Linked DNA regions of Homo sapiens. The protein of the gene in region 1 interacts with the protein of each later gene in a pairwise test. Each region holds a gene or a part of one and is shown on either strand. Other genes may lie near its edges. The genes, in order: NPHP4 and SPATA7.

What was found.
Region 2: the proteins of NPHP4 (region 1) and SPATA7 interact in a protein complementation assay, tested with the Homo sapiens proteins (one study listed by IntAct).

Annotation. Positions count from the first base shown.
Region 1 is NC_000001.11:5,863,426-5,873,879, reverse strand, and holds part of NPHP4 (nephrocystin-4), read left to right. Parts: intron 1-544; coding exon 545-628; intron 629-5,983; coding exon 5,984-6,140; intron 6,141-6,764; coding exon 6,765-6,850; intron 6,851-7,421; coding exon 7,422-7,507; intron 7,508-8,606; coding exon 8,607-8,778; exon of another isoform or gene 8,779-9,356; intron 9,357-9,362; coding exon 9,363-9,542; intron 9,543-9,846; coding exon 9,847-9,990; intron 9,991-10,454. UniProt on the Homo sapiens protein: Involved in the organization of apical junctions; the function is proposed to implicate a NPHP1-4-8 module. Does not seem to be strictly required for ciliogenesis. Required for building functional cilia.
Region 2 is NC_000014.9:88,377,233-88,390,448, forward strand, and holds the start of SPATA7 (spermatogenesis-associated protein 7), read left to right. Parts: upstream 1-8,424; 5' UTR 8,425-8,586; coding exon 8,587-8,605; intron 8,606-13,216. UniProt on the Homo sapiens protein: Involved in the maintenance of both rod and cone photoreceptor cells.

The DNA.
Region 1 (10,454 bases):
GGAGTGTGTGAGGTGTGTGCAGACATGCAGTTGTGTGTGTGCAGGGAGTATGTGAGGTGTGTGTGCAGGTGTGCACTTGTGTGCAGGGGGTGGTGTGTGAGGTGTGCCTGCAGGGGGTGTGTCATGCCCGGGTGCGTGAGGCCGGCATGGGGTGTGGAGTGTGTGTTTCAGCTTTTGACCTTTTGGGGTCAGCTCTCTAGGGTGGTGGTCATCGCTTAAGGTGGACTTGAGATGTCCCTAGAGGCTCACTCACAGGATGCCATGCTGGCTCTTGGGATGGGCTGTGAGGACTGCAGGTGGGACCTCAGGCCTTTGGCTTCAGGCAGAGCCGGGTTTCCACCTGGGATCTGCTGTTCCCTTTGTTCCTGGCAGCCTCAGCCTTCTCTGGCACAGTGAGGCCGGTTGGTGATGGTTGCTGCCTGGAGAGTCAGTGTGAGAGGAGGCTGGTGGCTCCCAGCTGGGTGGCAGTGGTGTCTCTAAGCACAGGTGCTGGTCGCCTAATGGTGTTGCTTCCTGACCTGCTTGTGCTGTTCGGTTCCTGCAGGCCTCTCCTGGGTTGAGCAACGAGAAGGGCATGGACGCCGTGTCACCTTGGAAGTCCAGCGCAGTGCCCACTAAACACGCCAAGGTAAAGGGGCAACGGAGGACAAACTGATCTCGGGGCTTCCTGGGTATTCCCAGGGCCTGACCCTTGTGTCCTTCTCTCCCCTCCTGGAGGGGAGGGCTGGGGCCAGGTCAGGGCAGGGGTGGCGTGGGCCTGGGAATGGCCTTTTCCGTGTCCTCGCTGGGCAGGGCAGCTCCGTCTGGGCGCTGGCACAGCCTGCATGGTATCTGGTCGGAAATGCCTCCTTGGTGGCCGCCTTCTCACAGCCCAGGGCTCTCCGGGTGTGAAGCCGCAGTTCCCGTGGTGGCTGCCACAGCCTGCGGCCACTCCTTGAGCCTCACGCAGAGCATTCCCTGGTGTGTGAGTGTGTGGTGTGGTTCTTCCTGGAAATAAGACGTAGTCCTTGGTTACGTCCCTTGCTAAGCGAAGGCCGTATAGTAAGGCACCTGCTTCTCAACAGCTGGCTGAGACATTCTCAGGAGGAGCTTGAGACACTGCTGCTTTATGGCAGTTTCTGAAGGTTGTTTTTTATTCGGTAGAAACATGCCTTTTGTAGTAGTTGGGAAGTGAAAAACAAAATTAAAAAGCTTTGGTCTTTCTTACACATTGCCTGGAGGACAGAATTCAGAGTTCAGCGCAGTCCTGTGAGGCTGTGGCGTTCCCGTGGCCCGGGTCTCACTGTGGTTGCAGCCTGGCCCTCTGTGTCCACCGGGCCCCATCACCAGTGAAAACTTGCTTTATTTTATTTAAGTGTGCAGCCACAGCTTTGCCTTGATCTAAGGAATGTATCTGATCTTTATTGAGTGCTCTAGGTTAACGCTTTTTCCTTACATGAGTGGGAAGTCCCAGCCATCGCGTCCTGTTGCCAAAACCGTTGGGAGGAAGGTTTTCCTCTGCTAGCTCAGGTCTGAATGGTAAGGGCTGCAGGTGGATGACCGTAGACAGAGGGACAGCAGCAAAGACGGGCCTTACCGTTGTGAGCCCGTGGCAGCATTGGGAAGTGAGTAGCTTGCCAAATGCCCAGAGGTCGAGGTTTCTGTGCCAATGTAGCACAAAGGGGGCGAGGGCCAGGGCCTCCGTGGGAAGACGGGGACATTCTGTTGTCTCTTTATGCTGTGAGCATGGCCAGTCTGTGACCTTCCTGGAATTTGCAGGATGCTTTCACTTACACTTTCACATAGGGGTTTAATGGCAGCTGCACTTTCAGGTGGCTGTGCACTAGTCAGATAAGGAAAGTTCAGGTAAGATTTCTTTTCACCTTAAAATAATCTTTACGTCAGAAATATGATCTCTTCACATGAATTTGGAGTTTGAAGGGAAATCCTAGACACTGTGTTAGTTTACCCATAATTACTGCAGTGTGTATCTCTGACTGATAAGGACTTTTCTTTTTATCATGACTGCATGCTGTTGTTGCTGCCCCCAGTCAACGCAGACCTCGGCATCGTCTGCTGGGGCTGTAACCACGGGCCTTTCTACCACTGGTGCGTTTGGATCAGGACCCGCTGTCCTGGGGTGCTCCGCCTCTGGAGTTGCTCAGTGGGCAGACCACGTTGTCCATGAAGGCCACCCACAGAGGCCATGCTGGCTGTCACCGTGCTCAGGTGCTGATGGCCTGATGCCATCACCCGTGTCTCCCTCACTCGCATCCAGCTGAGGCTCCTGGCCCACTGCGTGTTCCATCCAGGGTGGAAAATGGTGAAATTGCAGTCCTGTCATTCTTCCTGTGATCTTTCTACAAACAAGGACTTTCCCGATCAGCAGTTTGGTTACCCTAAAATATACTTTGTACTTGAAAGTGAGGATGAATGTTAGAATCATTCCCTTTATCAATTTTCAAATAAATGAGCTGCGTCCTAGCAGCCTCCAGAGACAGTCCATGTTTGCGGCGTCTCATGATGGACACCGAGGCGTTATATTTGTATTTCTCATCCCATGGAGGCACCGCTCTTAGACGCTGGAACTGCCCTCTCTCAGGCCACCGCCATCCTTTTCAAGTTAACTCCTGTGCCTTTTTTAAATAACAAGTAGTTATTTTGAAATAATTTAGAACTTAGGGAAGAGTTACAGGAAGAGTGCAGAGTCCCCACATAGGGTTTTCCCAGACTTCCCGGTCACTAACCTTTGCCATGTTTGCCTCGCCACTCTCTGTTTGTGCATTTTTCTTGAACAATTTGAGAATAAATTATCAGGTAATGCCCTTTACTCCATGACACTTCGAGCTGGGTTATCTTGAAAATAAGGCCACTGTCCTCTGTGGTCAAAGGAGAGCCATGAAAATTAGGGAACTGACGCTCCTCTTCTGTCATCACAGGCCCCATTCACATTCACAAATGTCCCAGCACTTGATAGATGGCCCGTCCAGTGGCCCCCACCAGCCTGCTGCCCATGGAGTCCTTCTGGCGTGGCTGCAGCTGTTGTGAAGTGCACAGGCGGTTATCCTGCAGGGCGTGCCCAGTGGGGCTGGTCTGGTGTTCGTTTCAGTTAGACCCAGGTTATGCACTTGGGGCAGGACCTCCACAGACATTTGCCGTGTCCTCTACGAACATCATACTGTGAGGGACACCGTGTTGCTTTGTCCTGTTACTGGCGATGTTACTGTTTTCATTCAGTTAAGATGACATCTGCCATGCTTTTTTCCTGTAATATCAGGAAATGTCTAGTAATTAGAAAGTCATGAGTAAGTATCTTGTTGGGAGATACTGAGGCCGTTCAAATACCCTATTCTTCATCAGACTTTGACGCACTAGGTGTCAGTGTGCACTGATGACCTGGCCCGAGTTGGTTGGTAGTGGGATGCTTGCCTGCCATGGATTTTCCAATTCCATCATTCCTTCTCTGTTGATTACTGGTATTTTAAGTAAGGTAGAGCTGTGCCTTCACCCCATTCACCTATTTACTTTTTATATCCTTATGAACAATGAATTTCTATTTTATTCATTTTGTTACTATCATTATTTATTTTGTTGCTCATATTCGTGCCCTGACTAACCAGGGCAGCCTCTTCAGGCCAGCTCCTGCGTCCTGTTGATTCACCCCTGTCCTCCTTTGAGTCTTTCCTTACTGCCCAGCACAGCAAGACGCCCCAGGCTCAGCTTGCATTTCAGGAGTGTCAGCTATTTAGCTCGGGTTCCTTTGGTTGGAGAATGATATTTAGAAACCAAGATTTGAGCGTTAGATGTACTCAGTACTACTGGGATGTCACTGCTGCTAAGTCCCTCTCAGCAGAGACCTAAGAGGTGTATGCCTGTGGGTGCAGATACATACATACACAATATGTGCATATCATGCATATATGATGTATAGATATGTGCGTGTATGTGCACAGACTACTGTTTCTAGTGTGCTGAAGACCATGAATTTGCAGCAGTTCTTCCAACACCAATTTAACATCACGGGTTTCTTCCTGTTTTTTTCCATGTTTGTAATTCTCATTTCTGCTCATGAGAAACCTAGCTCGCATTTGGCTTACTTATTTGCCTAATTTCCTCTGTATATAACCAATCTGCTGACCACACTGGCCAAATCCCTTTGGCTACAATACCACTGGCCATCTTTATGTACGTGTATATTTCAAAACATCAGTACCAACCAGGGCTAGACACTATCTGTCAGTGCAAGATTTCTGAAGGTGCATTTGTCTTTAGGTCCTTTGTGTCCTGTGATTTACATTTACTTAAAGAATTCTTCTCTGGATAATTACAGCACCAACTTGATAGAAGCTTAGATTTGTTTATTTTTAATACATTAACACTTCTATTTATTTTAGTTTTCAAAATTAAAAACAAGTAAGTCAAAAATCAAACTATAAAGCAAGATATATTTGGAAGGATCTTGTTTCCATTCTTGCCCTGCCCCACTCTCTCCTTCTCAGTGTGTGCAGGTGTGAAGTGTGTGCATGTGTGTGTGCATGCATGTGTGTGTGTGCGTGCATGTGTGGGTGGTGTGTGTGTATGTGCATCCATGTTTGTATTTGTGCATCTGTGTACATGTATGGATGCATGCATGCATGTGGGTGTGCATGTGTGTGTGTGTGTGTGTGCATGTGGGTGGATGTGTATGCATGTGGGTGGATATGTGTGCATGTATGTGTGCATTGTGTGCATGTGGGTGCGTGTGTGTGCATGTGTGGGCGGATATGTGTGCATTGTGCGTGTGTGCATGTGGGTGCATGCATGTGTGCATGTGTGGGTGCATGCATGTGGGCATGCATGTGTGTGCGTGTGGGGGCATGTGTGCATGTATGTGTGTGCATGTGTGTGTGTATGGGTGCGTGTGTGTGCATGTGTGGGTGGATGTGTGTGCATGTGTGTGTGCATTGTGTGTGTGTGCATGTGGGTGCATGCATGTGTGTACATGTGTGGGTGCATGCATGTGGGCGTGCATATGTGTGCGTGTGGGGGCATGTGTGCATGTATGTGTGTGCATGCGTGTGTGGGTGCGTGTGTGCATGTGTGGGTGGATGTGTGTGCATGTATGTGTGCATTGTGTGCGTGTGTGCATGTGGGTGCATGCATATGTGTACATGTGTGGGTGCATGCATGTGGGCGTGCATGTGTGTGTGTGGGGCATGCGTGCATGTATATGTGTACATGCATGTGTGTGCATTTGTGGCTGGATGCGTGTGTGCATGCATGGGTGCATGTTTGCATGTGTGTGCACGTGTGCCTGCATGCATGTGGGTGTGCATGTATGTGTATGTGTATGGGTGCATGTGTGGGTGCATGAGTGCATGCGTGTGTGTGGGTGCGTGTGTGTGAGTATGCATGTCTCTGTGGTTGTGTGTATCTTGAAACAAATATAGCCTTTTTATCAGTTGTCCCAATTAATACCTCTTCAGACAATATGGTTTTTAATGAGTAGCTCTTTTGAAACCAGGAAAGTTTCTATTTCTAACCCCTTTGGTTTAGGCACAGCCTCTTTTTGCCATCTGGAATCAAAGAGCTTGTGCTGACGTGCTTGACCGCGAACTTGGCCCTGCCACCACCCACTCCAGGACCTCCTGGCCTGACTTGCGCACATGCACACAGGGTGTCGGGAGGTGGGATCATGGCAGGAGTAGTTTTGACTTGGGACTGCAGACCTTCTCCACTGGCATTTAAGAAGTGTGCTGTACTCGCGAGGAATAATGGCAGTGTGGCTGCTTGGGTGCCCTGTGTGGGTGCCGGCCCAGACCTTGCTTAGCGGTCCCCTCCTGGTGGAGACCTGCTGCTGCAGACTCAGTCCCTGCCTTTGACGATGCCCGACCTTCCCCGCTCATGGCAGTGGAGGGTGAGGGGGTCTTGGCAACAGTGGAGATACGTGTGCTGTCTAAGGAGGGACAAGAAGCTGCTCACAAGCCTCGTGCCCATCCCAACACTCAGCGTGGCCTCCTCACAGGTCTTGTTCCGAGCGAGTGGTGGCAAGCCCATCGCCGTGCTCTGCCTGACTGTGGAGCTGCAGCCCCACGTGGTGGACCAGGTCTTCCGCTTCTATCACCCGGAGCTCTCCTTCCTGAAGAAGGCCATCCGCCTGCCGCCCTGGCACACATTTCCAGGCAGGTCCTGCACTGACCCTGCAGCCCACATGTTGCAGGCTCACCTGTTGGAAGTAGATACCTCTTGAGGGTGACAGATGGCCTCATGGCTTCATGCCCTGGTGCTGTCAGAGCAGCACGTGGGGCCTGGGGAATTCTCTCTCCTGCCTTTATGGTTTGAAACGGTGTCCCTCTTGCCACCTCTGAGATGACTAGGTGCGCATTTGCCGGCTGAGTCTGCCCTTCTAAAAAATCCCAGCTCCCGCGGCCCAGGTCCAGGTGTGCCTGGAGGAACACCTACCTCCTCACCTGACGGCCCGCGTGTTTCTGGTAGGTGCCCCTTACAGCAGAGTGCAGGCTTCCCTGCTCCAGGGAGCTGTGTTTTCTTTTTTGTGGCCCCCTCGATTATTCCCTGTGGAGATGGCTGCAGCCGAGCCGCAGTGGGCTGGATGGGCGGTGTCCATGCAGGGAACACAGTGCTTGGATGCTGTCCTGGGAAAGGTGGCGGCGTCCGTTTCCCCAGCAGGTGTCTTGCTGAGCACCTGTGACGAGCCTGTCCTGTCCTATAGTGTGTAATGTGTGGGGCCTTCTCCACACAGGCTGGGGCTGTGGAGAAGACTCTTTTTGACATTTCCCCTGCTCCAGGTGCTCCGGTGGGAATGCTTGGTGAGGACCCCCCAGTCCATGTTCGCTGCAGCGACCCGAACGTCATCTGTGAGACCCAGAATGTGGTAGGTTGTGTTGTGGCCCCAGCTCAGGCAGATCCTTCCCAGTGAGTCTGCGCCCCTGTCGGCTTCCCCACGGGTATCCTGGGATCCTCTTCATTTTAGGTTTTCTGCTAAGTGGTTTCTTTCCCAAGGTACTAAAGGGCTATTTTGACATCCTTATGAGAGCTTTATGAGTGTGTTTTTATTTTTTCTACTAGCAGATCAGCTCCTTGATCATCTGAATTTAAATTTTAAAAAGGCACGAAGCAAAGTTAATAAAGTGGATGGTAATTAAGGCACTTATTAATTACCATTATGTAAAGGATAAGGCAATAATTGTGTTATGACCAGTTAGGAAACCGGATAAAATCTCCTGTAGAATCTAATTGTTGAGATCCATGTAAAATCAGGAAGCTAATGATCTTCTCTTTGGCAGTGAACAGAATAGTGAATTCCGATTGGTATAGAACATGAACAGATGCGTTCTGGGAGGGACTGGCCGTCACTCGCTGCGTGTATTAGTCACAGATTTAGGGGCCAGGCTGGGGTCGGCAGAGCACTGTGTGCCCTGATGTGCTGCACATCTGGTTGGCAGGGCCCCGGGGAACCACGGGACATATTTCTGAAGGTGGCCAGTGGTCCAAGCCCGGAGATCAAAGACTTCTTTGTCATCATTTACTCGTAAGTGCACAGGCTTTGGGGACCTGGAGGCGGTGGCGGAGGAGAGGAGGAGGCAGGCCTGGGGCTGCTGGTGGATTGAAAGTGGGCTTGGCCCCTTCCTAAAATTGGGGGAGCTTTCGGGCCTTCGCTTTGTGAGGCGGGATTCTGCTGCGAGTTCAGGGCCCGCAGGGGTCTAGGGAAGGCACCTTGGAGGGGCACGTGCAGCCTGAGGGACTTGGGATGCAGCTCCTGCCACCAAGGAGAGACACCAGTCAGCCTCTGTCCCCAGATAGTGGCAAGGGCCACCCAGAAGCCCCTCATTACCTTTTTCTTGCTGAGTCCCTAGGCTGAACAGCATGAATGAAGCTGTGGTCCCTCCTGCGGAGAGGCAGGACTGTGGTGGAAATGCCCATCCCTCTCTCCTCCAGGCTAAATGACCCGGCCCCTTTCCCCTCCCCTCCTAAGTCGGATCCCCAAGCCCTGTGAGAATCCTTTCAAACTGGTGTGAGCTCGGAGATTTCCTGCAGTGCTTCTGAGGATGGGGCAGGGGCTAACCTGCACTCAGTGCCCACCACAGAGGGGCCACGTGACCACGTCTCAGAGTGGCTTCCTCGTGAGCCCATGAAGATGCCTCACCCAGCCCCATTTGACTGTGAAGCAGCAGGCTCTTGGCCCTAAAATGCTAACAGGGGCTTCCGTGCTCAGGCCGGCATGACCTCCAGCCCCACCCTGTCTCCTGCGTGGCGCTGCCCTTGGCTTAGCCTCAGAACCCCTATTGGGGGTGGACACTTGTCCAGGATGTGTGTTTGGCCAAAGCGTGCCTTGTCATTTGTTTGACATGTGGTTCCTAAGCAGCCCTGCTGCGCCCTGAGAGCCTCTGCTGTGGGTGGGAGATGGGCAGCCAGGGGTGGAGCCACCAGGCCCTAGCTCTGCCTCCTGGGGCCTGGTCCTCCGGGGCTTTCCCTGCGTGGCCCCAGCTCTGCCTCCTGTGGCCTGGTCCTCTGGGGCTTTCCCTGCACAGCCTCCTGTCTGCCCACGCTCCTGGCAGCCCTTGTTGGCCTCTCGTGGGCCGGTGCTGAGTCCTCCGGGACAAGTGCAGATGGCTCCCATCCCACTGCAGGGATCGCTGGCTGGCGACACCCACACAGACGTGGCAGGTCTACCTCCACTCCCTGCAGCGCGTGGATGTCTCCTGCGTCGCAGGCCAGCTGACCCGCCTGTCCCTTGTCCTTCGGGGGACACAGACAGTGAGGAAAGTGAGAGCTTTCACCTCTCATCCCCAGGAGCTGAAGGTACGGCCTCTCTGGGGGCTGTTCTGAGCCTCTCCCCAACCCCAGCCTGGAGACGGGCAGTGGGCATTCAGCTGGAGCACAGTGGGTGGCCCTGACAGCAGCTTTTCCAGCGCCTCCAGCGCGCAGACGCTGTTACCAGAGGCCTCTCGGCAGTTGCCTTTCGTTAGATGTGCCATTGTGGGGTGAGTGACGTACACACCAACCCCAAAGGCCGGTGTTCAGAATTCCTGGCAAGGTGAACAGTGACAGGAGCTCTGGTGTTAGTGAAGCCACAGTTAGACGGGGTGGGAGGGCGGCCCCTGGTGCCACCAGCTGGCCGGGGTTTTAAGCCCAAGATGGCTTCAGTTCTGTCTGCGGAGGCAGCGCTTAGGGAATAGTCGCCGTGTGAGAGGAGGGACTTGCCTGGTGTGGACCCAAGTCGCGGCCACAGTCATGTCAGGGTTGGTTGTGGCCTCAGATTTGGCCGCCCCGGAACCACCCATGACCTTGGGCTCCCCTGGCTGATTGGGCTGCAGGCGCCCAGGAGCCCCTTGCTTGCACATCCTGAGAGGCTGTGCTCTGACCCGCCTCTCTCGCTCTTGAAGACAGACCCCAAAGGTGTCTTCGTGCTGCCGCCTCGTGGGGTGCAGGACCTGCATGTTGGCGTGAGGCCCCTTAGGGCCGGCAGCCGCTTTGTCCATCTCAACCTGGTGGACGTGGATTGCCACCAGCTGGTGGCCTCCTGGCTCGTGTGCCTCTGCTGCCGCCAGCCGCTCATCTCCAAGGTCTGTATGTGTGGCAGGCACAGGCTGAGGGGATGGGGGCTCAATACCAGGGCACTGCAGGACCCCCACCTCGGCCCTGTGACTCGGACCACTGGATACAGTGTTCTGACCCAGCAGGGCCGGGTGCATGAGTGTTTGCTCCTGTGCTGTGTCTCTCCCGGATGGAAGCTCCAGAGAGCGTCTGTCTTATCTCTGTGGGGGTCCCCGTGCACGGTGCACAGGAGACTCAGGGAATACTTGGAGGAAGGGCCAGTGGCTGTTCCCGTGAGTGGCCGCAGCGTCTCCCTGTCCCCTCCCTCCACAGGCCTTTGAGATCATGTTGGCTGCGGGCGAAGGGAAGGGTGTCAACAAGAGGATCACCTACACCAACCCCTACCCCTCCCGGAGGACATTCCACCTGCACAGCGACCACCCGGAGCTGCTGCGGTTCAGAGAGGACTCCTTCCAGGTGTGGTGGGGCTGTGCCTGGGACTCCTAGGGGAAGACCCGGGGACCTGAATGGAGGGCAGTTAGCCTGCATTTAGGAGCGAGTTCCTCAAATCACCAGCAGTCTTCCAAAAGCCCCAGGGCGGTGACAGGTACCATCCCATAGTTGGGTGGGCCCGTTGTATCTTTAGTAGCTGGAGATTTAGCAAAGTTTCTCCTGAGTGTGGGAAAGGGTGTTGTGCCCAGGGCTTTTCATGGTAATGTTAGACAGCTCAGTCTCGGAAATAAGTGTGCCTTCGAGTCCAAGTAACGCGTCACACTGGCTGAGCACTGGTTCCCATCCTTGTACCGGGCGCTGAAGTCAAAGGCAGGCCTTGGATGCACCCGCAGGGCTCCCCTGCCTTGTCAGCTCCCCTTGGAAATAAACACGACCATGCAGAGAGGTTGCTGGTGAGAGCGTGGGACAGCCCGGGGGTGGATGCTGGG
Region 2 (13,216 bases), on another chromosome or scaffold:
CCCAGCCAGACTTTTTATTAAGGCTTTGATCTCATTACTTGTTATTTGTCTGTTAAGGTTTTGGATTTCTTCATGATTCAATCTTGGTAGGTAGTCTATATCTAGGAATTTATCCATTTCTACTAGATTTTCCAATTTATTGACTTATAGTTGCTCATAGTAGCCTGTAATGATCTTTTGAATTTCTCCAGTATCTGTTGTAATGTCACCTTTTTCATTTCTAATTTTATCCATCTTCTGTTTTTTCTTACATGTTTGACTAAAAGTTTCTCAATTTTATCTTTTCAAAAAAATCAACTATTTCATTGATCTTTTGTATTTTTTCCTTAAATTTCCATTTCATTTATTTCTGTTCTGATTTGTATTGTTTCTTCTCTTCTACTACTTTTGGGTTAGATTTGCTCTTGCATTTCTATTTAAGATGCATTATTAGGTTATTTGAAGTTTTTCCTCTTTTTTGATGTAGGTGCTTATAACTATAAACATCCCTGTTAGTAGCACTTTCATTGTGTCTTGTAGGTTTTAGCATATTGTGGACTATTATCATTTGTTTTAAGAAATTTTTCAATTTCCTTCTTAATCTCTTTTTTGACCCACTGGTCATTCAAAAGCATATTATTTAATTTTCATGTATTTATATGGTTTCCAAAATTCCTCTTGTTATTGATTTCTAGTTTTATTTCATTGTGGCCACAGAAGATATCATTTCAACTTTTCAAATGTTTTAAGACTTGTTTTGTGACCTAATATATGGTCTGTCCTTCAGAGTGATCCATGTGATGAAGAAAAAAAAATCTGTGTTCTACAGCCATTGGATAACATGTTCTGTACATATCTGTTAGGCCCATTTGGTCTATAGCACAGATTAAATATGTTTTTGATTTTTTTTTTTTTTTTGTCTGGAAGATCTGTCTAGTGCTGAAAGTGAGGTGTTGAAGTCTCCAGCTACTATTGTATTGGAGGCTATCTATCTCTTTAATACTAGTAATATTTGCTTTATATATCTGGGCACTACAGTGTTGGGGGCATATATGTTTACAACTGTTACATCGTCTCGCTGAATTGACCCCTTTATTATTATATAATGGCCTTCTTTGTCTCTTCTTAAGTTTTTGTCTTAAAATCTATTTTGTCTGATATAAGTATAGCTACTTCTGCTCTTTTTTGGTTTCCATTGACATGGAGAATCTTTTTCCATCACTTTATTTTTAGTTTTTGTGTGTCATTATAGGTGAAGTGTGTTTCTTGCAGCCACAGATAATTGGGTCTTATTTTTTTTTTTATCCATTCAGCCAGTCTATGTTTTTTGATTGGAAAGTTTAGACCTTTTACATTCAATGTTATTATTGACAAGTAAGGAGTTACTCCTCTCATTTTGCTATTTATTTTCTGATTGTTCTGTGGTCTTTGCTCCCTTCTTTCCTTCCTTCCTGTCTCCCTTTTAGTGAAGGTAATTTATTTTCTCTGGTGGTAGTATTTAATTTCTTGCTTTCTATTTTTTGTGTATCTGTTGTATGTTTTTTGATTTGAGGTTACCATGAGGCTTGCAAATATTATCTTGTATTTATTATCATTAATTATTTTAAGCTAATAACACTGCTTGCATAAACTAACAAGCAAAAAAAAACCAATAAAAATTCTACACTTTAACTTCATCCCCCAGCTTTTTAACTTTCTGTTGTATCTATTTATATCTTATTGTACAGTCTATGTCTTGAAAAGTTGTAATTATTATTTTTGATTTCATCTTTTAGTCTTTCTACTTAAGGGTACTTTCCACTCTACAGTTACAGTGTCATAATTTTCTGTGTTTTCCTGTATATTGACTACTACCAGTGAGTTTTGTCCCTTCGGATGATTTCTTATTGCTCATTAATGCCCATTTCTTCCTGATTGAGGTGCTCTCTTTAGGGGAGTACTTGTAAGACAAGTCTTGTGTTGATGAAATCCCTCAGCTTTTGTTTATCTGGCAAGGTCTTTATTTCTCCTTCATGTCTGAAGAATATTTTCACTGGATATACTATTCTCGGGTAAAAGTCTTTTGTCTTCAGCACTTTAAATATGTCATGCCACTCTCTCCTGGCCTGTAAGGTTTCCACTGAAAAGTCTGCTGCCAGATGTATTGGAGCTCTAGTGTATGTTACTTGTTTCTTTTTCGTGCTGCTTTTAGGATTCTTTCTTTATCCTTGACCTTTGGGGGTTTGATTATTATATGCCTTGATGTAGCTTTCTTTGGATTAAATCTGCTTGGTGTTCTGTAGCCTTCTTGTACTTGGATAGTGACATCTTTCTCTAAGTTTCAAAAGTTCTCTTTTATTATTTATTCAAATAAACTTTCTATCCCTATCTCTTTTTCTACCTCAACTTTAAGGCCAATAACTCTTAGATTTTCCCTTTTGAGGCTATTTTCTAGATCTTGTAAGCATGTTTCATTGTTTTTTTATTCTTTTTTCTTTTGTCTCTTCTGACTGTGTATTTTCAAATAGCCTGTCTTCAAGCTCTCTAATTCTTTCTTCTGCTCGATCAATTCTGCTATTAAGATACTCTGATGCATTCTTCATCAGCTGTGTAGCCTGGGGTTGGTGAGGCGGGACAAAGAGGGAGAGGTGCAAGCACTCTTAGCTTCCCCAGCTGGTATCTTAATAGGTCACACGTCCCACCCTCCAACTCAATCTACTGGCTTTGAGCCCAGCTCAATACCAGGACTTGCATAAGAATTGCAGTTCTTGTGGCCTAAACTGCCCCTCAAGTTCACTTAGGGCCCCAGTGCCTCCAGCCCACAGTGGCAAGCCTTGCCAGAACTCAAGCTCCAATTGCTGGAATGGGCAATTACCCTCTGCCTTGGGCCGGTCCAAATGCCCCCTCCATGGGCAGGCATCAGCTGAGTACAGCTCAGTTTGCTTTCTGCTGTGATGGGGCAGCACTGAGTCTAATGCAAAGCCTCATGACCGCTGTGCTCCCCCTCTCTGAAGCACAGAGATTCTCTCCAACAGGGAGCTGCTGCTGGGGAATGGGGGAGGAGACAGGGATGGCATCAGCAATTTAAGACTGTCTTTCCTACCCTCTTTGGTGCCTCTTTCAGTCATGTGAAATCAAAGCCAGGCACTGAGAGTGCTCCCTTGATTTTTGGTTCCTATGAAGATTACTCCCTTTGTGTAGACAGTTGTCAAGCTAGGTGTTCCTGAGAAGGAATGATTGGCAGAGCCTTCTATTCGGCTATCTCACTCCGCCCCTCCCCTGGAATCACTTTTTAAAATGTTTGTCAGTTGCACGTTACATTGCTTGAATAAGATTTGTAGGTAATATTGCCTTAGCATGGCTGCTTTCCTCACAGGGATGGAGCTTAAAACTTTCCTAAAGCCCCCTCTAGTGACAAACAGCAAATTATTATCCATTATTTCATACCTCCAAGCTCTAAATACCTCCAAGCTCTAAAGTTCCATTTTCTCATTTAGTTATTAGATGAATCAATTGCTACATTATTTCAATTAGAGAATGACTGAGAAATAGTTAATAGCTCAAATTCTCAAGCATTCTTAAATCACTGAAACCTAAGCAATTTTGTTTTGAGACTGAGGTCAGCACAGTGCACATTTAACTCTATAATTTTACTCTGCCCTCATACATATAATTTTTAAGGATTCCCTAAATTTCCTTCATTTTTGTCTTTCAGGAACTTTAAGGGTTAAAATATGTTCGCAATAACTCAATAAATAGAAAAATGTTGTTTTGAACTTTGGCTTCTTGTTGTTTTCACTGTATTTACTGGAACATTTTCTAAACACACAAATATAAATTCCAGGAATCCTCTGAATTATGAAACTAAGGGTCATCCATAAAGACATAGATTAAATATATAATAATAACATAATGCTTAAAATAATAATATATAATAAAACAGAATAAACAATAAACTATATATTATTTGCATAACTATAGGTTATGGTATTAAAATATATAGTTTATTTCACTTATATAAAATTGAAATATATTGTATATTTCAAATATATAAAAGCCCATTTCCAAAGGGCTTAGAGCTCATCCAATAAGACAGGCCTAATTAAACCATTAAAAGAAGAAGTCATATTCCTAATAAAGGGAATTAACGAGATAAATTTTTAAAAGGCTATGAATATTTATTTCAACTGAGCACAAATCTTAGTTTTGAGGTTCCTGTAAGCTAATACAAAAAAAGAAACCCAGTAATTGATTAGTTCATGCCAATTCATTAAGGGAAACAAAGTATTTCCGTCTAAAACACACATATGGGTCAGGCACAGTGGCTCATGCCTGTAATCCCAGAACTTTAGGAGGCTATGGCAGGTGGATCACTTTAGGCCTGGAGTTTCAGACCAGCCTGGCCAACATGGCAAAACCCTGTCTCTACTAAAAATACAAAAATTAGCCAGGCATGGTGGCTCACGCCTGTAATCCAGCACTTTGGGAGGCTGAGGCGGGTGGATTGCCTGAGCTCAGGAGTTCAAGACCAGCCTGAGCAACACAGCGAAACCCCGTCTCTACTAAAATACAAAAGAAATTAGCTGGGTGTGGTGGCATGCACCTGTAGTCCCAATTACTCGGCAGGCTGAGGCAGGAGGATTGCTTGAATCCGGGAGGCGGAGGTTGCAGTGAGTCAAGATCACACCACCGCACTCCGCCTGAGCGATGGAGCGAGATTTCGTCTCTACAAAAATAAATAAATAAATAAACAAACAAAAACACATATGCAGATTTCTAAATGTCAATAACAAGATTATAGCATTGGAATAATTTCAGAACATGAAATTCAGGTGTAAACATATATATTCAACAAAAGGTCTTCAGAATGCCTACTCTCCAAGGCCATTGCAGCTGGTGATGATTTTCCCAATAGAAGGGTGTTTCTTGGGAGCTCACCCTATAATAAACTCATACCAGCTGTATCCATCACCCATGATCATGAATTATTTCCTGGGAATAGCAACCAGAAAGAATCTTCTCTCTTGTTTACATACATAGAGCCAAAGCAAAGGACAAATTAAATTGCACTTAGGATAACATGTTCATTGCTAAAATTTGAGAGACATAGACCCTATTATGCACACATTCTTGAAATAATTGGAACAAAATATTGAAAGGGAAATAATGAAATAGATGGCTTCAGACAAAGTTGGGTACCAGACAATATGGTCTCCAGAAGTTTCTCCCATTCTGCTGCCCTCTCCAGATCACGCACCCCCCCGTTCTACTTGAAAACAAAATCTACTTGTCATCCTAAAGTCTACTTTTCTAAGAGGAGCTGGTATCACCTTCCCTGAGTCAAGTCACTGTGTTGCTTATCCCAAGGGTGTTTGCCTTGGGTTCCTTGTTTCTAATTCAATTTAACAAATGCTTACTGGAGGCCTATTATATGCAAAGTATTTGCTAGCTGCCAGTAGTGAAATAAAGGCCTTCATGATCTTAGAAATGGATTTCAGGCAATAATGAGTACCTAGGAAGGAGTTTTTGTTCTCTGCATGATATGATTTGGCTCTGTGTCCCCCTCCAAATTTCATGTTGAACTGTAATCCCCATGTTGGGGGAGGTACCTAGTGAGAGGTAATTGGATCATGGGGGTGGATTTTCCCCTTGTCGTTCTCATGATAGTGAGTTCTCATGAGATATGTTTGTTAAAACATGTGTAGCACTTTCCTCTTCGCTCTCTCTCCCTCCTACTCTGCCATGTGAAGAAGCTACTTGCTTCCCCTTTGCCCTTCCACCATGATAGTGTTTCCTGAGGCCTCCCCAGCCATGCTTTCTGTACAGCCTATGGAACTGTGAGTCAATTAAACCTCTTTTCTTCATAAATTACCCAGTCTCAGGTAGTTCTTTACAGTAATGTGAGAATGAACTAATAGACTGCATAACATCTGACTCCCTGCCCCTGTATCCTTCCAAATTACTTTTGTTGTTGGGGCCACAGAGCCATCACACACACTTCAACATGCCTCCAATTTTGAATCATTGTCTGCCTACCCTGGGTTTTAGGAAAACAGGGGTTCAAGCGTTATTATAACCGGGTTTCTGATTTATTTCTCCTTCCTTGTTACAGAGTTTCTGACTTACTCCCTCAAGCCTGAATTCCCTGATACCCAGCTCTGCTGAGATAGGAATCTCAGAAGAGAGAAAGCTAACATTTATTGAATACATTCTTTTATTTGCCAGGCACTGTTAATTCTTTTAACTATAAAATTAGTAGCATCATTTTTTCATCCCAAGCAACAGAGAGGTAGACTGTTGATGAAAAGAGTCAAACTCTGTAAAATATTTTTAGAGATTTATTCTGAGCCAAATATGAGTGACCCTCAGGAGGTCCTGAGAACATGTGCCCAAAGTGGTTGAGGTGCAGCTTGGTTTTATACATTTTAGGGAGGCATGAGACATCAATCAAATAAGAAATACATTGGTTTGGTTCAGAAAGGTGGGACAACTCAATGAGTATGTAAATTTAAACATTTCCTGGTTGACAATTGGTTGAGTTTATCTGAAGGCCTGGGATCAATAAAAAGGAAATGTTGGGGTTAAGATAAAAGATTGTGGAGACCAAGTTTATTGTGCAGAGGAAGCTCTCAGTATAGCAGACCTCAGAGAGAGAGCAGATTGTAAAATTTGTCTTGTCGGACCTAAAAGGGTGCCTGGCTCTTAGTTGGTTATCTCCTGGATTTGGAAAGGAAAGAAGGAAAACAAAGGGGAAAAGAGATTCTCTATAGAATGTGGTTTTTTCCCACAAGAGATTTTGCAGGGCAATTTCAAGATATGGCAAGGAAATATATCTTGGGGTTAAATATTTTGATTTTTTTTTCCTTGTCTCATAATATTATGCCAGAATCAGATTGGAAAGTAAGTCATGGTATATAGAGTCAAATAAAACCCATCTGATAAGAATTTATGGTTTCTAGGGCATGACTCCCTAGACACCTTAGATAGGAATTTGGGCAAGATAAAAAAATTAGAGCTTAGTCCTCAACTCTACAGAAGAAAATGACATTTACCCAGGAATGGGCATTGCAATAGGAATATGCGTGCCATGGCAAACTGTTTGCATATTCAAGGAATTAAAGGAAAAAAAAGTTTTTTTAAAAAATAAAAAAAGGAGAGGATTACATAATTGTTTTGAGGTAATTAGCCTTGGCTCCAAGCATCAATAACAAGGGTGATGTCAGTTCAAGGTTGGACAGACAATTGCTGGACAGATGTCCTCATAGAAGTATCTTTTTGGGTAAGGTGGAGGTCTTTGTGCAAGGTTGTGGTTTTCGCAGTATTTTGTGATAGTTTTATTATCAGGCATTCATGGATGAGAACTCTCCTTCATGGCCTTCTCCAGTTCCACTTGTCAGGTTTTCTAACACATGTGACTCTATTTTTGATTCTGACAACTTTCACAATCTACATTAGAAAAGAGAAAACTGGGGCTCAGAAAGTTTTAGAAACTAATTCAAGATCAAGCTGGTAAGTAGCAAAAAATTTAGAATTAAGTTCTACATATCTGGTTCCAAAACCAGGACTCTTTTCATTACAGCAGTGGTTCTCAACAGAGTTGCGATTTTGCCCCCCAGGGAATATTTCACAATGTCTGGAGACATTTATGACTGTCAGGATTGGAGGTGGAGTGGGTGGGGTCTGCTTCTGAGAAGCTACTTGCTTCTAGTAAACGGAGGACAGGGATGCTACAAAACAGTTCATAGGGACAGCACCCCCACAACAGAGAATTATACAACCAGCCCAAAATGTCAATGGACATTTGGGCTGAGAAGTCTTACATGACAGAATGCTTCCTACCCTGATCTGACGTTATTTCCAAGGATTCAAAGGTAACTGCTTCAAAATTAAACAAATTATAGAAAGCCATCAATAAATCAACCCCTTATTCATGTTGCAGCTCTCTTCCATTATAAATAAAAATGGATTGAAACTTACGATAAAAGGGAGGCAGGGACAGGAGCGGGGAAGCTTGGCGAGCAGAAAGGAAATTCAAACTTATTATTAAGGTTAAGAATTAAGATGTAAATATGTAGATGTTTTTCACCCCTAGGATTTTCACTAATCCAAAAGTTCACGGACTGCTTTGAAATTTAATTATTTGGAACTGGTTAAATGTTACCCTGACCTCAGCTAACATTTGTGTTTCACTTTTCTCCGGGACCCAGGGGACGTGGATGCCAGATGAGTCCACCTCCTCTCCCTGCTCTTCCCGCAGGGACAGAGCCTGCCAGGTGCTGGTGACTCGGATCCTGACAGGAGGTCGCTCTGCGGAAGACTGGCAGGATCCCAGAGCAACAGACTGGGGCTCGATGCCCCTTCCCCGCCAGGTCTCTCCGTCCGCAACTGTCCTCCTAGTACCGGGTATCCCGCAGGCGGGGCTGCGGAACGCACGTCCCCTGCGCCGTGACGTCACAATAGCGACTCACTGGACCCAGCCCTTAGCAACGGCCTGGCAACGGTTTCCCTGCTGCTGCAGCCCCCGTCGGCTCCTCTTTTCCAGTCCTCCACTGCCGGGGCTGGGCCCGGCCGCGGGAAGGACCGAAGGGGATACAGCGTGTCCCTGCGGCGGCTGCAAGAGGACTAAGCATGGATGGCAGCCGGAGAGGTAAAGGGCAGCTGTCAGGGGCTACCGCCGCCTCGCCCCTCGCTCCAGGCGGCGCTCCCAGCCTCGGGTCCGGGCAGCTGAGTGCAAGGCCGCCCCTTGGGGCGCTTCCTACCCCTGGCTGAGTCGCCAGTGTTGCCTGGAGCTGCCCAGGCCTGCGCAAAGGAAGAGGGAGAGCCTGCTTGCCAGCCTCGCAGGTCCGCTTCTTTGCCCTGAATTTGTCGCCCTGACACCAGGGGCCCCTGTCTCCTGAACTCAGGGTCGTGCAGCCTTTAAAACCTCAGTAGCTCCCAGGCAGAGGAACCAGGTTTGGTCTTTGGAGTCAGACCTCCCCGGGCCCCAAATCAAACCCCTCTGCTCTCCATGGAGACGACCCTCAGTTTTCTTATCTCTTGAACGTGAGGGTCAAATACCCAGGCCATGGAGTTCTTGAGGATTAAATGCAGATAATATAGAGAAGATCCTGGCGCATTTGAAGTGGTCAGTAAATACGAAATCTCCCAGTAACGAACTACCTCCCCCAAAGCTACTGAGTAACCCAGGGTTTCTGTAACTTTCTGTGAATAGGAATCCCCTCAGGGTCATGTTAAAATGCAGATTATGATTCAGTAGGTCCCTTGGGGGTGGCTGAGATTTTGCATTTATAATAAATTCCAAGTAATGCGGTGTTGCTGGTCAGCGGACTGCAGTTTTAGCAGCAATCCGTACTCACCATATACACCTGTTCTCTACTGATTTCTTGAGTCAGGTGGACATCATGTGGTGGGGTTGGGGGTGGGGAAATACAATCTTAAATATCTACAAATCGGCCCAAACCAAATAATTTGCATTTTCACACTTTCTGAGCCAGTATCATTCTTTCCTCGAGTCAAATGAGGCAATCTTTATAGACTCCCCGCCCCTCCCAATTCAGTGTTTTTATCTATTTAAAAGACTGCCTTTAAACCAAGCTGCTAGATGATTCCTTGATGTCTTTCTTTGAATGAGTCTGCCTTTATTATATAGTCATTGATCAAAATAAGTGCTACTCCGAATGTAGGAGATAACTATTCATTGATCAGCAAACTATTCTGACACTTCACCAACCTAGGTTTCAGAAAAAGCAAATCAAAACGCTTTATGATCTTAAGAAATTTTGCATATAAACTAACATTAAACCCTTGCTATGTACTAGGAACTATTTCCAAATTATCTCATTTAATGTACAAAAATACCTTGATAGGCATTAGCCTTATTTCATAGTGAAGAAACTAAAGCAAAAGATCACAAATAACTTGCCAAGATCACAGCGGCAGAACAGGATTTGAATCTAGGTGAAGAATATAAATCTGAAGCCAATGCATTTACTTACTATCCCATGGTAGGGATGGGCAGGGGGAAAGGATAAATGTAACATTTAGAGTATGGTAGATTTAGTAAGTTGTCAGTATTTGTTTATTGAATTATTTTAAAAATTGGGTTCATGCCAAATGTAAAAAGGTTTATATTTTTACAACTTGCACAATTTAATTAGCTTCATTTTTAGGAAATAATATATGATAATGTCAAATACTGTTATTTTGAATTTTTAAAATAAATGTAATCACCAAATAACCAGGGCAGTCAGCTTTCATGTACTGTAAATTAATAGGAAACCATAAATAATTTTAGACACAGCTAAAATAATTGAGAATAAATTTCTTAGATTTCATTAGGAGGTGCTTTTAGTTATTTCAGAGCATAAAATATTAAAACATCTAAAGAAAAATTATCTTTTGTCATGCTCTTACTGTAATCACGTTTTAGACATTCTTTTGTAAGGCAAGCCTTCTAAATGGTGGTATAGTACAGCACCAGACTGAAAAACGGTTAGTCTTGTTTGTAATCTTTGTTTCCTACTAACTAACTAGGTAATCTTCAGCATGTCACTGTACGTCCCTGGGCCTCAGTTATTTATAAAATGGGGGCTTGGACTAGGTATATATAAGGCATGGTTTCCAGCTTCCTATGGGGGAAGGTGAAGAAAAGATTGAGAATAACAAACTGCCATTCACTCTAATATCAATGACCTTTAGGAAGGAGAGGAGACAACCTATTAGTATATTACTGAAAGTAACTTGAAAAAAAATTTTTTCCCAGCACTCTGGGAGGCTGAGGCAGGTGGATCACTTGAGGTCAGGAGTTTGAGACCAGCCTGGGCAACAGAATTAAACCCTGTCTCCACCAAAAAATACAAAAATTAGCCAGGCATGGTGGCGTGCGCCTGTAGTCCCAGCTACTCGGGAGGCTAAGGCAGGAGAATCACTTGAACCTGGGAGGGGGAGGTTGCAGTGAGCCAAGATCATGCCACTGCCCTCCAGCCTGGGCAACAGAGCAAGACTCCATCTCAAAAAAAAAATTGTTTTGATCTGTTGGTCTCATAGAGACACTTATCAATGGTAGATTTCCAAACCTTTGGTTTTCCAGAGAAACCTTGCCACAAGAAACACTTTCATCTTTCCTCACTGGACTTTCTTCTGGCTATTTTAATCAAATTGTGTAGGAAAATGGGCTGCTCTCATATACCAGTGAATTTCACCACTAAGACCTTCAATCTCATTGACAAGATTTTAGTCCTAATAGTTAGAGAATGATGTTCTTTTCCTTGGCATTTGGTTTGAGGCTACTTCTCCATGCCCCTTTGGCTCATTCTGGGTCCAGTCCAGTCAGGAGATAGAAACCATACAGTGATTTTTATACAAGGAAAAGTTAAAGAATTGTTATACTTTCATAAAAGAGTAACTATAAGATGTAAGGGGCTGGGCGTGTCAGCTCATGCCTGTAATCTCAGCATTTTAGGAGGCTGAGGCAGGAGCATCACTTGAGGTCAGTGGTTTGTAATCAGCCTGGGTAACATAGCAAGACCCTGTCTCTAGTATATAAAACAAATTAATGAATTAATTAAAAAGATAAGAAAACTGTATTTGGTACCTAGAATTACGGGAAAGTACTCAAAGAAGGACAATTTGAAAGAGAGTTTCTCCCAAAGACTGGGGTTCAGACCTCATTAGAGAAGGCGTGATTGTGCACTTGCCCAAAGCTTCATCACCGAGGAGTGATATCGGAGGCTTCACATTCCATGGGAAATAGACTTTGATAAATTGCTTAGCCAAGTCACTAAACAAACAAGTGAACAACAATGAAAACAAGCTCAGGAGAGGATTCTGTATCTAGAGTTGCTGCAATATATTACCTAAAATGTTAACTTTTCAACAAAAAGAAATTGCAAGTCATGCAAAAAAACAAAAACAAAAAAACAGGAAAATGTGACCTATACACAGGACACAAAGGAGGAACCAGAAACTATGAGAGGGTAGATGAATTAAATCGTCTTATTTCTCCCCTCAATTCTGTTAGGTTTTTTTTTTTCCTTTCTCTTTCTTTTTTCTTTTTTCGAGACAGGGTCTTATTCTGTTACCCAGACTGGAGTGCATTGCAGCCTCCTGGGCTCAATCATCCTCCCATCTCAGCCTCCTGTGTAGCTGGGACTACAGGCACACACCACCACACCCAGCTAATTTTGTATTTTTTTGTGCAGTTAGAGTTTCGCCATGTTGTCCAGGCTGGTCTTTGAACTTCTGGGCTTAGGTGATCAGCCTGCCTCAGTCTCCCAAAGTGCTGGGATTACAAGCACGAGCCATTGTGCTCAGCCCTAATTCTGTCATTTTTAATATGACATGTATCTATAGGAATATTAGAAACCAATGAGTATATGCCTTGGTGTACGTCTGATGGTAAATAGACAAGGGAACATAGACATCAAGGAACATCTAAATTCCATGTTTGTTCTTATCACCATCTTATGCTAAAGAGCAGCTGGATTGATTCCTGGGGCCAAATATTAACCACCTTGTTCACAGCTGTCACTTACAGATGGGTGGGGAAGCATTTCTATCCAGAGCATTATCACTAGGTTCCAGCCTTTTTTCATTCTCTTTTCATCCTTTCACACTTCTCTGGGTATACCTGTTTTTCCTTTTTCTGTGACCTATAGTGAAACATACATAGAATAGAATGGAATTTGGAGGGAATAAACTACATACAGCTGAGATATCTTCTTGGTCTGTTTCACATGATTTAGTAGCTTAGAACATGGTTCAAGTACTGAGCAGTTTATATTGGTCAAGATAGTGTAATGATTAAGACCCAGGAAACAGACTGCTTGGGTTCAGATCCCAAATCTGTCACATTCTTGTGTAATCTTTGGCAAATTACAAGTTTAACCTCTGTGCTTCAATTACCCTCATCTATAAAGTAGGGAGAATTATAGTATTGTAAGGATTAAATGAATTTATACCAGCAAAGTGCTTGGAGCACTGCCTGGCAGGGTTACCACTCAATAAATTAGCCTTTTGACTACAAATGAAGAAATCAACTCATACTGGTTTAAGCTAAAATGGGAATTTTTTTTTTTTTTTGGCTAATGTAAAGAAACGTCTAGGGAAGGAAGAGCTTCAAACATGGTTGGCCTCAGGTACTCAAATGATGTCACCAAGAAATCGCTTTCTATCTTGGTTCCACTTGACTGTGTAGGCTTCATTCTCAGACAGGTTCCTTTATAAGGTTCAGGATGGCCACCAGCAATACAGGGCTTGC